Linked DNA regions of Homo sapiens: region 2 is linked to region 1. Evidence: fine-mapped expression QTL. A gene starts in region 1. The other region holds a variant in brackets. All regions are shown on one strand. Distances are between the middles of the regions.

Evidence for each region. PIP is the estimated chance that this variant, and not a neighbour inherited with it, causes the effect.
Region 2: its variant is fine-mapped to the expression of ZMYM6 in whole blood (TOPMed, PIP above 0.99).

Annotation. Positions count from the first base shown.
Region 1 is chr1:35,027,315-35,035,651 of GRCh38, forward strand. It overlaps ZMYM6 (zinc finger MYM-type containing 6), which reads right to left and starts at 4,631. Exons shown (of 16, transcript NM_007167.4): 1 at 4,501-4,631; 2 at 3,233-3,399. The coding sequence starts at 3,325. It overlaps LOC124903990 (a long non-coding RNA gene), which reads left to right and starts at 5,406. Exons shown (of 2, transcript XR_007065739.1): 1 at 5,406-5,843. RefSeq lists enhancers at 3,933-4,459, 4,460-4,984, 4,641-4,820 and a silencer at 4,351-4,470.
Region 2 is chr1:34,982,838-34,991,174 of GRCh38, forward strand. It overlaps TMEM35B (transmembrane protein 35B), which reads right to left and starts at 2,510. Exons shown (of 3, transcript NM_001195156.2): 1 at 2,361-2,510; 2 at 930-1,110. The coding sequence starts at 2,468. It overlaps ZMYM6 (zinc finger MYM-type containing 6), which reads right to left. Exons shown (of 16, transcript NM_007167.4): 16 at 3,328-6,098. The coding sequence ends at 4,267. RefSeq lists silencers at 2,069-2,138, 2,199-2,488. The variant A/C (reference allele first, on the strand shown) is at 5,213.

The DNA of each region.
Region 1 (8,337 bases):
CTGGAGGAAACAGGGTCTTTAAAGGGAGAAATATCACTCGATCTATACAGTACAATGGCATCACTGTAGAGTGTTTTGATGGGATATGTGACTGAAGGAAGGAGAATAGGTAGGAAACTATTATAAAAGTCCAAATGAAAAATAATGAAATAGTTCAGGCATGATGGCTCATGCCTGTAATCCCAGCACTTTGGGAGGCCAAGGCAGGAGGATTGCTTGAGGTCAGGAGTTCAGGACCAGCCTGGGCAACATAAGGAGACCCCGTCTCTACAAAAACTAGCTGGGTGTGGTGGAGCATGTTTGTGGTCAGCTACCTGGGAGGCTGAGATGGGAGGATCGTTTAGAGTGCAGTGGCCATACTCACACCACTGCACTCCAGTATGGGCAACAAAGTGAGACCCTGTCTCAAAAAAAGGAAACAAAAAAAAGAGAGAGAGAAATAATGAAATATAGAAGAACATCATGGGTCAGATACAAAAAATATTTAAAAGCTAAAAACCACAAAACCTGGCAAAGAAATGGTTACTTTAGGCAGAGAAAGAGTAAGAATTTACCATCTGGAGGGAAAACAAGTAGCATGGATGCCACCATCCCCCACTCCACATCTAACAGACACTACCTCAGAACTCTTCTTAGCCCAGCACTCTAGCAAGGCATAGAGTTCATGAGTGAAACAAAACCTACCTGACATCCCTGTCTTCTTATGATACTGCCTGTGGCTGGGCATGGTGGCTTACAACCATAATCCCAGCACTTTGAGAAGCCGAGGTGGGCAGAGCACTTGAGGTCAGGAGTTTTGAGACCAATCTGGCCAACATGGCGAAACCCAGTCTCTAACAAAAATATAAAAAATTAGCCAGGCGTGGTGGCGCACACCTGTAATCCCAGCTACTCAGGAGGCTGAGGCAGGAGAATCGCTTGAACCTGGGAGGCGGAGGTTGCAGTGAGCCAAGATCGCGCCACTGCACTCCAGCCTGGGAGTGACAGAGCAAGACTCCATCTCAAAAAAAAAAAAGGAATGATACTGCCTGTGAGATGGTGTGAAAAATAAAATTGTTTTTTATTATTTTAAAATATAATTGCTTTGCTGATACAATAAAGTCAATAACTTTGAGTGTAAAGCGAAAGAACTGTCCCAGAAGAAAAATTCCTTGCCAAAACAACTAACTCATCTCTCCCATTGATTTTATTTTATTTTTTTTTGAGACGGAGTCTCACTCTGTCACCCAGGCTAGAGTGCAGTGGCGCAATCTTGGCTCACTGCAAGCTCCGCCTCCTGGGTTCACGCCATTCTCCTGCCTCAGCCTCCCAAGTAGCTGGGACTACAGGCGCCCACCACCACGCCCAGCTAATTTTTTGTATTTTTTGTAGAGACGGGGTTTCACCGTGTTAGCCAGGATGGTCTCGATCTCCTGACCTCGTGATCTGCCTGCCTTGGCCTCCCAAAGTGCTAGGATTACAGACGTGAGCCACTGTGCCCAGCCTCCACATTGATTTCCGTGCTCTCCATTCTGGGTCCCTATGGGGTAGCCAGAATGATCTTTCCAAACACAAATCTGTTTCATCTTACTTTCTCACTTAAAACCCTACAATTGGCCAGGTGTGGTGGCTCACGCCTGTAATCCTAGCACTTTGGGAGGCTGAGGTGGGTGGATCACCTGAGGTCAGGAGTTTGAAACCAGCCTAGCCAACATGGTGAAACCCCGTCTCTACTAAAAATACAAAAAATTAGCCAGGCGTGGTGGCAGGCGCCTATAATCCCAGCTACTGGGGAGGCTGAGGCAGGAGAATCACTTGAACCCGGGATGTGAAAGTTGCAGTGAGCCACCAAGATTACAACATTGCAGCAAAACTCCATCTCAAAACAAAAACAAAAAACCCTATAATGGCTATCTACTGCTCTTAGGATAAAAACCAAAATTTATAACAAGGTCTGCTACGTCCTACATAATCCAGCCTTAAACTATATATACAGCCTTATCATAGAGAAGCAGAATAGCACAAGTTCTGGAGTCTGACCACCTGGATTTGAATCCAGTCTTTGTCATTTACTACTAACTGTGATCTGTGGTAAACTATTTGGCTTTTTTGAGCTTTGGTTTCCTCATCTGTAAAATGGGGATAATAATATGGTGGTAAGAATGGTGCCTGACACACTCTTAAGCATATATAAATATTAAGTTAATAATGTCACATATGATTATGATATAATATATACTACATACTGATATACTAATGCCAGCTATTTTTATTGTTGTTGTTTTAATCATTATCATCATCACCATTTTCATACCTTTTCTGTTCCAGGCTCACTGTTCCTGCAGGTCTTAAAAAGAACCATGCATCTTTCCAACTCAGGGCTTTCCTATTCACAGTTCCCTCTGTCTGTAATACTCTTCTCCATACCCTTTGCCTAATCAATTCATTCTTCATAATTCAGCTTACACATCCTTCCCTTAGAGAGGCCTTCCCTAGCCATCCCCAGGCAGACCACAACCAAAACTAGGTCAGATTCCCCATTTTAGGCTTTTCTTCCAGAGTACTTGTCATAGTTTGTAATTATATATATTACTTGACCAATACTTTTGTAATCTCTGCCTCCTCTACTAACATATAAGCTCTACAAGGGAAGGGACTAAGCTGACTTTGCTCAATCCTGGATCCCCAGAGACTAGCACAGACCACAAATTCTTAACAGAATAAAGGAAAGTACTACCAGATACAAGAGAATTTTTTTTAAGTGACAAGTATGGAAAAATGGTAAATATATTACTTTCCTTCCACACACAAAAAAATCATGTAGTTATAGCTTTCATTCAAAGAGCAAAAAACCAGCCAGGAATGGTGGCTCATGCCTGTAATCCCAGAACTTTGGGAGGCCAAGGTGGGTGGATTGCTTGAGCTCAGGAGTTTGAGACCAGCCTGGGAAACATGGCCAAACCCCGTCTCTACCAAAAATACAAAAAAATAGTTGAGCATGTTGGTGTGTGCCCTGTGGTCCCAGCTACACAGGAGGCTGAGGTGGGAAGATCACTTGAGCCTGGGAGGTGGAGGCTGCAGTGAGCTAAGGAGATCGCACCACTGCACTACACCCTCAGCGACAGCGAGAGCCTGTCTCAGTTTGGGTTATTTTAAACTTACAAACCAGAAGCCGTTTAACTAAAATTTTTCAGTTGACCAGATGGAAAAGAAGGAATTTTTTTAAATTTTTAAATGAAGATGAAATGCTTACTTGAGCATTGTCTGGTTCTTCTTTAATTTTGTCCAGAAGCTCCTGCTGTGGTACCACTGCTTTGCCACATTCACCATCCAAAGGTTCTTTCATTCTAATTTTTTACCTCAAAGAGTGTCTCAGGCTCAAACGAATAGATTTCTTCTTGGTAATGGATAGTTGGACACCTAAAATACATACTCAGGCTTATTCTTTTTTCTTCAGGCTTATCTATATGAAAGAAAAACTTTGTGTTGAGTGCATGAGGCTTCACGGCTCGGCATTTGAAAAACAACTCTTCTGGGGCCACAACTAACTTTTTTCTTTCTTCCTGCTTTCTGTTCCTTCAGTAGCTACATAAGAAAACAGTTTTGGGGCAACAGCTCCCACTTCTCTAATATCTTTAAAGACACACAACACACTCTGGTTTTTTCCTATGTTGAAGGTTATTGAAGGGAATTAGACCAGCAGACCAAGACGTGGGAGGAAGTAATAAACTCTGAGAAGAACGGACTCAAGAAATAGTTTCTGACCCCATAAGAATCAGTACTTAGAGGCCCACGTCGGCTTTTATTTCTCAAAGAGGGGCACAACAACCTCCCGGCCCTGACCTATAACTCAACCTTCACTGGAAGCCTCCCTAAGGGCCCCATTTCTCGGCCTAACGCTAGATGTGAGCTCAAGATGCCATCCATCGCAGGCGAACAACAGGAACGCCCTTACTGAAAGTGAGTCACCTGCCTCTTTCAAGGTCTCCGTGTGAGGGGTGGGGGGCATCAAGCCCCTCAGAGCCCCGCTTCACAATCGCCTTCCTGTAGAAAAGAAACTCAATTGGCCATTCAGTAAATTCCCTTCCCCTAAAAGTCAAAGAACTAAACGGGACGAATTAAACCTAAAACAAAAAGCTCTTCAAAGTTGTCTTTATCCGAATAGTCCGGGATGGAAACGGACAACTGGTTGAAAAGCCTGTTCCAAAGAAGAAATGAGAACTTTTGCGCACTCGCCACAAAATATCTACGGGCGCTCATCCCTCCTCTGAGAACCGCACGCTTTCCGAAATTCTCCTTCCCACCAAGAATTCCCACTCCCATCATTGAGGACTAACGAGGCAATGTGGTCTCCGACTGAGAGCGGTGGACTAGCCAGTGAATGTCAACGCGTCCCTAAGGCGATATCCGCAGCCGCCCCAGCCGCGTAGCCCACCTGGCACCGCCCCCGCCGCAACGCCTCGTCACGTGGTGTGGCCTCCGCCCCGCCGTCCCGCCCACTACCACTGCGGCCGCACCCACCTTCTGTCGCCTCCCTGCTACCGGAGGAGCACTGGAATAGGAACCAAGTCCTCTGCATCTAGACAGGGATTATTTTCTCTTCTGGAATTCCGCCTGATCCATCCCAACGCAACGACCGGCCAACCACGCCTGCGCAGCCTTGGTCTCCGCCCTCTTTTCCCGTCAGGCTCCGGACCTGAGCTGAGTAGAACTTCCCAGCATTCCTCTTTCCTCAATTATGGTTCACTTCTTAAAGAGACCGAGGCTCAATAGTGAAAAGGTGGAGATGGCGTTAGAAGGCGCTGTAAGTGCTCTATAGCATTCTTTTTTTTTTTTTTTTTTTTTTTTTTTTTTTTTTTTTTTTTTGGAGACAGAGTATCACTGTGTTGCCCAGGCTGGGGTGCAGTGGCACAATCTCGGCTAACTGCAACCTCCGCCTCCTGGGTTGAAGCGATTCTCCTGCCTCAGCCTCCCGAGTAGCTGGGCTTACAGGCACGTGCCACCACACCTAGCTAATCTGTAGCATCCTTTAGTGCCCATTTCCTGAAAGGTGGCCTACTGAGAGAGCATGATATTAAATAATACTTGGCTTGCTGAGCACTTCACATGCACCATCCCACTTAATCCTCACCATTTAACCCTAAGAGGTATAATTTTTTAATCTCTTGAGATATAAATGAAAAAACTTGCTCAAAATTGAGATTTGGTTTTTTTAATTCAACATTGTTTCACAGATACGTGTATGATTTGTGACTGTTCATTCATTTTGACTGCTGTATAGTATTCTATTTTATGAATATGATACAATTTTAATCATCTACTACTGATGGACATTTGAGTTGTTTCCAATTTGTGGCTATTAGGAATAATGCTTCTGTGAACATTCTTGTCATTGGTGATGTTAAAAGACAAAATTACAACAAATTTAATTTAAATATCTCAATTAGCTTTATTTGTGATTCTAGAATCTGGCAGCACTTCATTCCATAAAATAGAACAAGTGTTCCAATGAGCTGAGCAGAAGAGGTAGGTTTTATAGACAGAGAAGGGCTGGAGAAAGCAGAAGTAAAGAACAAAAAACAGATTGGTTCATTTCAAAGTAACTTTCCAAAAAATAAATAAATAAGTTAATTTCCTTGTAAAGCAGAACCAAGAAACAAAACAATAGAGAAATAACTGATTGGTTAACATCAGGTAACTTCAGTTTATCTTTTTTTGGTAACGATTAAAGCAGAAGAAATTTCATTATTATGCTAATTGAAACTGGCACTCAGGGGAAATTAGACTCTTATTATCTCTTTTTCCTGACTTTTCAGAACTTCAAATAACAACGTAGTTTCCATTTGATGACATGGAACCTCAGTGTGAGTGACTCCATTTTGATTTTTAGTCTGGTTCATTGAGACCTACTGCAGGAGCTTAGCCCGAAACAATGGCCTACAAGTTTTATTTAACAGTGATACATATGCACACATTTCTGTTGGGTTCATACCTAAAAGTGAAATTGCTTGTTATGTATATGTAAAATTTAGGTAGATAATCTCAGGCAATTTTAGAAAATGGTGGTTTCAGTTTATACTCCCTTCAGCCATGTATGAGAGTTTCAGTTTCCCAACATCCTTGCCAATAATTACTGCTGCATATCTTTTTAATTATAACCATTCTGATGGGGGCATAGTGGTATCTCACTGTGGTTTTAATTTGCATTTCCCAGATTATTAATGAGGATGAGCCCATTTTCTTGTTCCTTGGGTATCTGGATATCCCCCATAAGTGCCTGTTCAAGTCTCTTGCTCATTTTTGTATTGGATTGACATTTTCTTATGGGCATATATTTTAGATATGAATCCTGCTATGGTTTGAATGTATGTGTCCCTTCAAAATTCATATATTGGAACTTAAACATTAAGGCGATGGTATAAGAAGTGGAGCCTTTGGGAGGGGTTAGGCTATGAGGACTCCATCCTCATGAATGGGATTCATGCCCTTACAAAAGAGGGCATTCATGCCCTTCACAAAGATTCATTCCTTTTGCCCTTTTAACCCCTCACTGTATGATAACAATGTTCCTCCCAGCAAGAGGACAACAACAAAGTTTCATCTTGGAATTAGAGAGTAATTCCAAGACAACAAATCTGCCAGTGCCTTGATCTTGGACTTGCCAACCTCCAGAACTGTGAGAAATAAATTTCTACTATTTATAAATTACACAGTCTGTGGCATTTTCTTTTGGCAATCAGGAATACACTAAGATAAGTCTTTTTTGAATATACACTAGCCCCCCTCATCCACGGTTTTGCTTTCTGAAGTCGTAGTTACCCACACTCAACCACGGTCTGAAAATATTAAATGGAAAATTCCAGTAACAAATAATTCATAAGTTTTAAACAACTTTCATTAAAGTCTATTGTTATAATTGTTCTATTGTTAGTTGTTAGTCTCTTTCTGTGCCTGATTTATAAATTAAACTTTATCATAGGTATGTATGTATAGGAAAAAACATAGCATATATAGGGTTTGATACTACTGGAGGTTTCAGGCATCTGTGGAACATCTTCGAACATATCCTCATGGATAAGGGAGGGACTACTGTATATATTGCAAATATCTTCTCCCACTCGGTAGCTTGCCTTTTCACTCTGTTATTGGTGTCTTTTGATGAACTTAAAAGACCTTTGTGGCCGGGTACAGTGGCTCATGCCTATAATAGCAGCACTTTGGGAGGCTGAGGCGGGCGGAACTCTTGAGGCCAGGGGTTTGAGACCAGCCTGGCCAACATGAGGAAACCCTGTCTCTACTAAAAATACAAAAATTAGCTGGGCATGGTGGGCACCTGTAATCCTAGCTACTAGGGAGGCTGAGGCAGGGGAATCACTTGAACCCCAGAGGCAGGGGTTGCAGTGAGCCAAGATCGCACCACTGCACTGCAGCCTGGGTGGCAGAGCAAGACTCTGCCTCAGGAAAAAAAAAAAAAATTAGCCGGGTATGGTGGTGTGCACTTATAGTCCCAGCTGCTCGGGAGGCTGAAGCAGGAGAATCACGTGAACCAGGAAGCGAAGGTTGCAATGAGCTGAGGTCATGCCACTGCACTCCAGCCTGGGTGACAGAGCAAGACTCCATCCAAAAAACAAACAAACAACAACAACAAAAAAACCCTTTGTGCTTAGTGCTTATTGTATTCTCTTAAGAAATATTTTCCTACCAAATGAAGAAAATTTCTAGAAGTGTTATTAGTCTTTCACATTTAGTTTTATAATCCATCTGTGGTTGGGTTATGTGTATAGTGTAAGGTAAGTCAGATTTCAACCTTTCCATGTGAATTTTGCATGGATTAAGCACTATTTTTTAAAAAGACTGTCCTTTTCCCCACTGTTCTGCATTGACACCTTTGTCATGTATCAGTTGTCTATATATGTGTGGGTTTATTTCAGGACTATGAAGGCTGTTCCTTTTGTTTCTCCTTGTGGAAATACCATACTGTCTTAATTTCTGTAATAGCTTTATAATAAATCTTAGTATATGATAGAAAAAGTCCTCCCTCCTATTATGTCCTTCAAGATTATCTTGGCTTTCCTTGGTCCTTTGCATCTTCATGTAAATTTTTGAATCAGCTTGTCAGTTGTGACAAAACTTTCCTTACAAATTTTAGAATCCATTGGGATTTTGTTTAGTATTATACTGAAGTGGTATGCCTGTTTTGGAGAATTGGTATTTGTTATTCATTATGTTGAATTGTGTCACCTAAAAAGATATGTTGAAGTCCTAACCCTTAGAATGGGACCTTATTTAGTCATATAGGATTGTTGCAGATGTAATTAGTTAAGATGAGGCCACACTGAAGGAAGGTGGGCGCTTCAT
Region 2 (8,337 bases), 44 kb before region 1:
CTGTTGGTTGGAGGTATGGGAAAGATCTGAAAATGGGAGAAGCTCCAGAGATGGAAGCAAGCCTGGTAGCAGTGGCAGCAATGGTAACAGATGCCAGGGCATATAGAAGAGCCTGAAGATATCTGGCCTTTGAAGCAACAGCTGTCTTTGTACATCAGCAGTTCCTGTGGGCAGAGCTACTTGAGGGGGACTCCCTAGGGAAATTCTCTGCCTTCCTGTTCAAGGTTCTCCAGCTTCCCTGCTCTCTACACCAATCTGCCAGACACATGCATCAAATGGCAGCTGCTCCTCCATCCCCTCATCCTAGGAGTGGATGTGTGGAGGAAGGAGCAGAGGCGCTGAGCTTGCAATATATCTTCACAAGGCAATACTATGCAGCCATTAGAATTGAGGAGGTAGAAGGTACACTTAACATGTGATAATGTTCTAGCACATTAAGTTTAAAAAGTACCTGTGCTAGGCCGGGCATAGTGGCTCAAGCCTGTAATCCTAGCACTTTGGGAGGCCAAGGCGGGCAGATCACGAGTTCAGGAGATCGAGACCATCCTGGCTAACATGGTGAAACCCTGTCTCTACTAAAAATACAAAAAAATCAGTCGGGCGCTGTGGCAGGCGCCTGTAGTCCCAGCTACTCGGGAGGCTGAGGCAGGAGAATGGTGTGAACCCAGGAGGCGGAGGTTGCAGTGAGCAGAGATAGTGCCACTGCAGTCCAGCCTGGGCGAAAGAGCGAGACTCCATCTCAAAAAAAAAAAAAAAAAAAAAAAAAAATACCTGTGCTAGTTTGAAGACCATGGAAACTGTGGTAGAGCAGAAAGTGCTCTTGATCCCAGAGAAAAAAGAAGGGTGGCAACAGTAAGGGGGAACAGCCAGGTCTTTCCATAATCCTCCCCCAGAAGACCCCATTTTCTCAGGCCAGTTGGCCCCCTTACCCATCATGAGCAGAATCAAGAACAAGTTACTGATCTCTTGCAGCATCGGTGGGCCCATGACCAGCAGCAACCCAGCCAGCAGTTCCAGAAAGCCCACAGCTATTTGGTAGTTCAGGGGATCTGGCTGGTAGCCAAATACCTTCAGCGGGAACACCTCAGCAAACTGCACGAACAGGGCATTCTAGGGGTGGCAAGGAATGCCTGTTAGCCTCATTGTTCAACAAGGATGAGCTCCCCAGATGCTCCATGGCATATCTATGCCTGTGCCCTCAACTTCCCAGAGAAAAGAACTACTACTCTAGGTCAGGTCCAGGGCTGAGGTCAGCCTGAAGAGGAGAGGGCTGCCCTGTGGCGCTGAGCTTTGGAATCAGGAAACAGGCTCCATGCTCCAAGTGGTACAGAGATTGATCTTCTCACTAGACCTCTCAAGAGATTACAACCCAGCCCCAAATCCCAGGAGGAGGGGGCTGGGCTTGGCTCCCTAGTGCCAAGGCCTGGGGAATTCCACAGTTTCCTTCTTTGTGTCTGGCCTGGTTTCTCTTAAGGCTGCTGTACAGGGAATATTTGGAGGTGAGGCAGAGTTAGGTGGGCTCAAAGTGACTCTTCTTGTCAAGGCAGGCCCTCCCCTGAGCCAAATGACAACTTCATCCTTACTTTCGGGGATACTTTTTCCTGTTCCCACTCCTCAGCTCTACCTCCCCTCCTCAGCTCTGCTGGGAAGCAGCTCTAAGCTGTCTGTCTCTGGGGATTTATCCAGGCCTTGGAGAGAGATGCCAGCAGAGGTCTACAAGTCTGGCTCTTTTGAGGGACTGGGGAGATTGGTGAACAGGATATGAAAGCTTTCCCATGAGTCTGGAACTAGACAGAAGGCTGAAAGACGACTTCAGGGCATCCCTCTCAGGCTTCCGAGAGAGGCTTCCCTCTCTGGGTTCCGAGTTAGGAGTGTCTAGCTTGTGTCCTGCTTCCTGACTAGATGTGCAATCTTTAGCAGATATACTTGCCCTTCAGGGCGGGCTTCCTTCCCTGCAAAGCCAGGATTACTACACCCCAACCCCACGAACCTCCCAAAAACTGAAGCAAACGGCGAAAAGAGGGAAGAGAGCGGGAAGTGAGCTCATTTTCCCACCGCATCATCCTCCCCCAGGGTCCGGGGGGGTGGGAGGGACCTCCTAAGGCTCTAGATTTGCCTGGGGCCACCAATATTCTGCAGGAAGGGGAGGTTCTGTCCCCTTCCGTCTAGGGAAGATCCAGAGAACTCGAGGAACTCCCCAGGCAGGACCTGCGCCTCAGTCGAAAGCCAGGCGCTTTCCCCCAGCTCCAGCTGAGCCTCGGAAGCCCGAAGGCGGCCTGCCGGGCCGGGGGCGAGGAGCGGCAGGGCGGAGCACACGCCGCCGCGGGCCCGATCCCCTGCCGCCCGCCCGCGCCGCTCACCATCCGCTCCGAAACTGGAGCCGAGATCTCCTCCGAGAGCTTGGCCAACCCCACGAGCGCGAAGAAGCCGCCCAGCAGTACACGCAGCACCGAAAGCAGGAGCGCCATGGCCGCGCTCCCCCCACCGTGGGTTGGCCCCGCCGAAAACCCGCCCCTGCCGCCGGCTCATTTCCTCCCTCCCCGGGGCAGCCGGAAGACTCTCGCCTGAGCTACCGTCCCCCACCCTCCAGGGGGTCGCGAGGCTGCAGTACTGGGGCAGGGCGCCCCCATCTTACAGGTGGGGACACTTGAGGACCACTGGCTGGTAACTGACTAAACAGGCACCTTTGGATTCAGGGAGTGTTTCCCAGCCAATACGGAGTGCTGGCAGACACGGGTGGGTGTCTGGGTGCGGTTCAGCTACCATCAAAAGACCCCGGGCTTCGTTCCTGCCTGTGCCACACTAGCTGTGGGATCTGAGCTGTCACCCACCCCAAAGGGCCTCAGTATCTGCATCTGTATATGGGGATAACTCAGTTCTCCAGAGTTTGTAACAGGCCTAGCACAGTGCCTGCACATGTAAGAGCTCAGAAAGTTATTTGTAAATTAGTAAATTAATTTATAAAATTGTAATAAATCAATAACCATTAATTATTAAATAAGTCTCTTTGCCTGAGATATCTTTTCCCTCTAATTTATCTCGGCTGACAATGAAATGTGAAAGGTGTTTGAAAATTCAGATACTTGCATGGATAGAGAGGCTTTCACTGAACCAAGCCCTACAGTCCACTCCTGGCCCATTTGCTCTTACCTGGAAATCTGTCTAAAGCTGGGATGGGCAAACCATGGGCCAAATTTGGCCAGATGTCTGATTTTTTTCCATGCTTCTCCCCTTCCCCCAAGCTAATAATGTTTGTTTACATTTTTTATGATAAAAACATTTTTTAAAGAAGCTTGTGTGACATAGGAAAATTATATGAAATTCATATTTCAGTGTTCATGAATAAGTTTTATTTAAAAACAGCCACACTTATCTGCATATTGTCTATGGCTGCTTTTGCACTGCAACTGCAGAATTGAGTAGTTGTGACAGTATGGCCTGCAAAGCTGAAAATATTTACTATCTGGCTCTTTATTTAAAAAGTTTGCTAAGCCCTGGTATATTGGGCCAGAAAGGCCCCAAGCAGGGGTCTCAAATCCCCCTGCTGCTTCCATTTATAGTTACCCAAGCTGCTTAGATCTATCTTTTTCCAGCTGGGCACGTTGGCTCACACTTGTAATCCCAGCACTTTGGGAGGCCGAGGCAGGTGGATCACTTGAGGTCAGGAGATAGAGACCAGCCTGACCAATATGGTGAAACCCCGTCTCTACTAAAAAAAATACAATAGACGGGCATGGTGGCACATGCCTGTAACCCCAGCTACTTGGAAGGCTGAGGCAGGAGAATTGTTTGAACCTAGGAGGCAGAGGTTCCAGTGAGCCAAGATCACGCCATTGCACTCCAGCCTGGGCAACAAGAGCAAAACTCCATCTCAAAAAAAAGATCTATCTTTTCCACCTACTCACAACCTTGCAGGGGTAAGTAGCTGGTTGGCTAGAAGACTGAAATGTTCCACTTGCTTCTAAAGGCCAAGCTGTTTCAACATCCAGGTTGTGCTGTTACATTATAAACTGGGCTTCTCATTACCTGCAGTCTTTGTCACTAGTCCAAATTTAATGAAATAACTAAATTTTCTACCCTAGATTATAATTATACATAATTATTTATAACAATCATAATTATTAAATTCCTCAACAAAAAGGGAAAAATTATTAAAACATTTAATCACTGAAAACACAAATCCACATTAGGAAATTATCTTTTAGGATACTTATACAAAACTTAACACAGGATTATTGACTTCACTGTTAAGCAATGTGCATATTGCTACTCTTTCTCCTTCACTAATTTTTCTATCCTTGGAATTAAAGATGTGACTGCAAGTCTTAGGGCAGGGCCAGAACCCAACAGATTTTTTTGTTTTGACTCAGTCAAAGCTGAAAAGGCAGCATCACATAAATAAACAGTTGAAAAGGGTAATAAAAATTTCATTGCCCTTTCATGGAGTTCTGGGTAACTTGTCTTTGCATTTATCCAAAACTGAGTTACAGACACTGATTTAAATAGTGCTTGTAATCCTAAATCTGAAGATAGCTCTGTTAGCTTTTCTTCTTCGAAGTCGGTGAGATTATTATTTTGGTGATTCATAAAAGGGTGAATTATCCACAAATTTCCTGAACGCAAGTCTTGTTCTGGTGGAAAACAGTCACTGAACACTTGAGAAAGTCCTTCCAGGTGCTCAAAAATAATCCTTGTGATGTCTGTCATATTTAAGCCTGATGAATTTGAGAATTCAGAAAATGAAGGGAACATGTCATAATCATTCTCTTGTGTGCGCTTCAACCACATTTTTAACTTTCTCTTAAATACATCAATTTTATTACACAAATTGAAGAAAGTAGTCAAAGTTCCTTGGAGACTTAAATTTAATTCATTTATAAGTGAAAATATATCTGATAAGTAGGCCAGCTTTCCAACCCATTCCTCATCATGAAAATACTTGGCCAAATCTGAATGCTTTTGACTTAAAAATATTTCAATCTCATGTCGTAATTCAAATAATCTTTTTAACATTCTCCCTCTTGATATCCAACGTACTTCAGCATGAAGCGGTAAACTCACATGCTCAGATCCCATCTCTTCACACAAAATTGTTAACATACGTGAATTTAATGCATTGCTCTTTATAAAACTTAAAATTTGTGCTGACTGCAAAAGAATTTTATGTAAACATGGAGACAACTTTTCTGCCACTAAACGTTCACGGTGAATA[A/C]AACAATGTGTAAATGCCGCTGTATTCATGGCAACTTCTTGAATTTTTGCTTTTAAACCAGAATACCTGCCAGTCATGCTTGCAGCCCCATCGGTACAGAGACCAACACAATGTTTCCAATTCAGAGATTTACTATCAATATATTTATTTATTAGTTCAAATATTTCAAAGCCAGTTATTTGAGTAGGCATTTCAATGCAAAATAATAATTCTTCTTTTACATCACGACAATCATAATCAATGAAACGAATATAGCACAAAAGAAGTGTGATATTTGAGATTTCTGATGACTCATCTATCTGAAGGGCAAACCACTTTGACTCTCTGACCTTTTGAATCAGCTGGTCTTCAATGTCTGCAGATAGTTCATCAATCCTGTGTTGAATTGTAACATTAGAAAGTGGAATAGTTTTCATTTTGTCTCCAGCACTTGAACCCAAAACTTCTGAACACATTTCTACTAAATATGGTTTAATTAATTCTTCAGCAATGGAGAATGGCTTCTTGCTTGCAGCAGTTTGGAAAGCAATTAAATAAGAAGCTTTCACAAGTGACTTTTCAACTAGTAAACACTTTTTTAAAGAACTATTTTGACATTCCATTTCTAAAGATTTTTGTTCAAAAAAATCTACTGGTTTGTTTTCTAATTCTGAATGTTTTGTCTTCAAATGATGAGAAAGATTTGCTGGCTTCATGTTTTCACTGGATAAGATCTCTCCACAAATGACACACTGTGGCCTTGGTGAACTTTCTTTTGATCCAGGACAGATAATAAAACCAACTTTTAAATATTCTGTATCATAAGTCTGGAAAAAACCTAATCTTTTTTTCTTTGAAGGTGGAGAATCAAGTTCTGCATCATTTTTTTCATTAGGCATAGGTAAATCTGAATGAAATATTTGAATCACTGTTATTTTCAAGAACAAATAAGCAATGTTCTTTATGTATCTCCCCACATATTTAAAATTCATATTTTGTTACTATTTCTATTTATCAAAAGAATGCACTGGTAAAAGTTTAAGCACAAGTCATAATACTTCCAATGATGCTACTGAAAACTGAATTTCTCCTTTGCCCAAAGCTTGATCACTAGGTATAATAAAACTGTAGGATGTGGTACATGTACAAGTAATCCCAAGCACCCAATAGGTTATTGAAATTAGGGCTGAAGACCATGATACACATCAAATTAACAATAAACTTTTTGGCTGAGCAGGGTGGCTCACACCTATAATCCCAGTGCTTTGGGACACCAAGGTGGGTGGGTCACTTGAGCCCTGGAGTTAGAGACCAGCCCGGGCAACATGGCGAAACTCCATCTCTACATTAAAAAAAAAAAAAGAAGAAGAAAAAAAATTGGCTGGATGCAATGGCACACACCTATAGTCCCAGCTACTTGGGTAGCTAAAGCAAGAGGATTGCCTGAGCCCAGGAGGTTGAGCCTGCAGAGAGCCATGATCACACCACTGCACTCTTGAGACTACGTCTCAAAAAAAAACAAAAAGAATAAATTTTTTATTGGTGAGTGACACTGGTGTCAAAAAATTTTTTTAAAGAAAAAGAAAAAAAAGGCCAGGCATGGGGCTCACACCTGTAATCCCAGCACTTTGGGAGGCCAAGGCGGGCAGATCACCTGAGGTCAGGAGTTCGAGACCAGCCAGGCCAACGTGGTGAAACCCCGTCTCTACTAAAAACACAAAATTAGCCAGGCATGGTGGTACATGCCTATAATCTCAGCTACTTGAGAGGCTGAGGCAGGAGAATCGCTTGAACCCGGGAGGCGGAGGTTGCAATGTGCCGAGATCATGTCATTGCACTCCGGCCTGGGAGACAAGAGTGAAACTCCATCTCAAAAAAAAGAAAGAAAAGGAAGAAAAAGAGACAGAAAAATAATGTTTTACTTTCAAACAATCCAGAAAAAAAAAGAAAATAAATATTGCAAAAAGTTAACATTTCATTAATCTGGATGAAGAGTATACTAGTATTGACTGTACTGTATATTCAACCTTTCTGAATTTTGATACTCAGTGTCAGTGAGGTTGTAGAGAAATGGATCCTCCTGAACACTGCTGGTTGGAGCATACATTGATGTAACTTTTCAGGAGGGCAATTTAGGCAACAGGTATCAAAATACTTAAGAATAGATGATAGGCCGGCGCGGTGGCTCACGCTTGTAATCCCAGCACTTTGGGAGGCTGAGGCGGGCACATCATGAGGTCACGAGTTTGAGACCAGCGTTGCCAACACTGTGAAATCCCGTCTCTACTAAAAATACAAAAGAAAATTAGCTGGGCATGGTGGCAGGTGCCTGTAATCCCAGCTACTCAGGAGGCTGAGGTAGGAGAATCGCTTGAACCTGGCAGGTGGAGGTTGCAGTGAGCCGAGATCGCGCCACTACACTCTAGCCTGGGTGACAGAGATAGACTCTGTCTCAAAAACAAAAACAAACAAAAAAAAAGATGATAGTCTTTGAATCAACACTTCCACTGATTAGGATTTATCCTAAGGACATAATTAGGCAAGTGGACAAAGATCCATTAACATAGCTTAACCCAACATTGCTTATAATACAAATATCTAAATTTCCAATCTTAACGGAGTTGGTTATATTATATACACTGAAATCTATGTTAAGAATCTCATACCCAGGTAACAAATCTGCACATGTACCCCCGAATAAAATAAAATAAACATAATAAAATAAAAATTGGAAAAAAATAATCTCAATGTATATTTAAATTTATATTGTTGTGGAATAATGTTTCCAATGCAATGTCAAATGAAAAAGTAATTTCGATTGTTAGAAAACATTCGAGATTTATTCTTTTAAAAGAGACGGAGTTTCACTCTTGTTGCCCAGGTTGGAGCACAATGGCGCGATCTCAGCTCACCGCAACCTCTACCTCCCAGGTTCAAGCGATTCTCCTTCCTCAGCCTCCTGAGTGGCTGGGATTACAGTCCTGTGCCACCATGCCCAGCTAATTTTGTATTTTTAGTAGAGATGGGGTTTCACCATGTTGGTCAGGCTGGTCTCAAACTCCTGACCTCAGGTGATCCGCCCATGTTGGCTTGCCAAAGTGCTGGGATTATAGGCATGAGCCACCACGTCTGACCAACAATTCAAT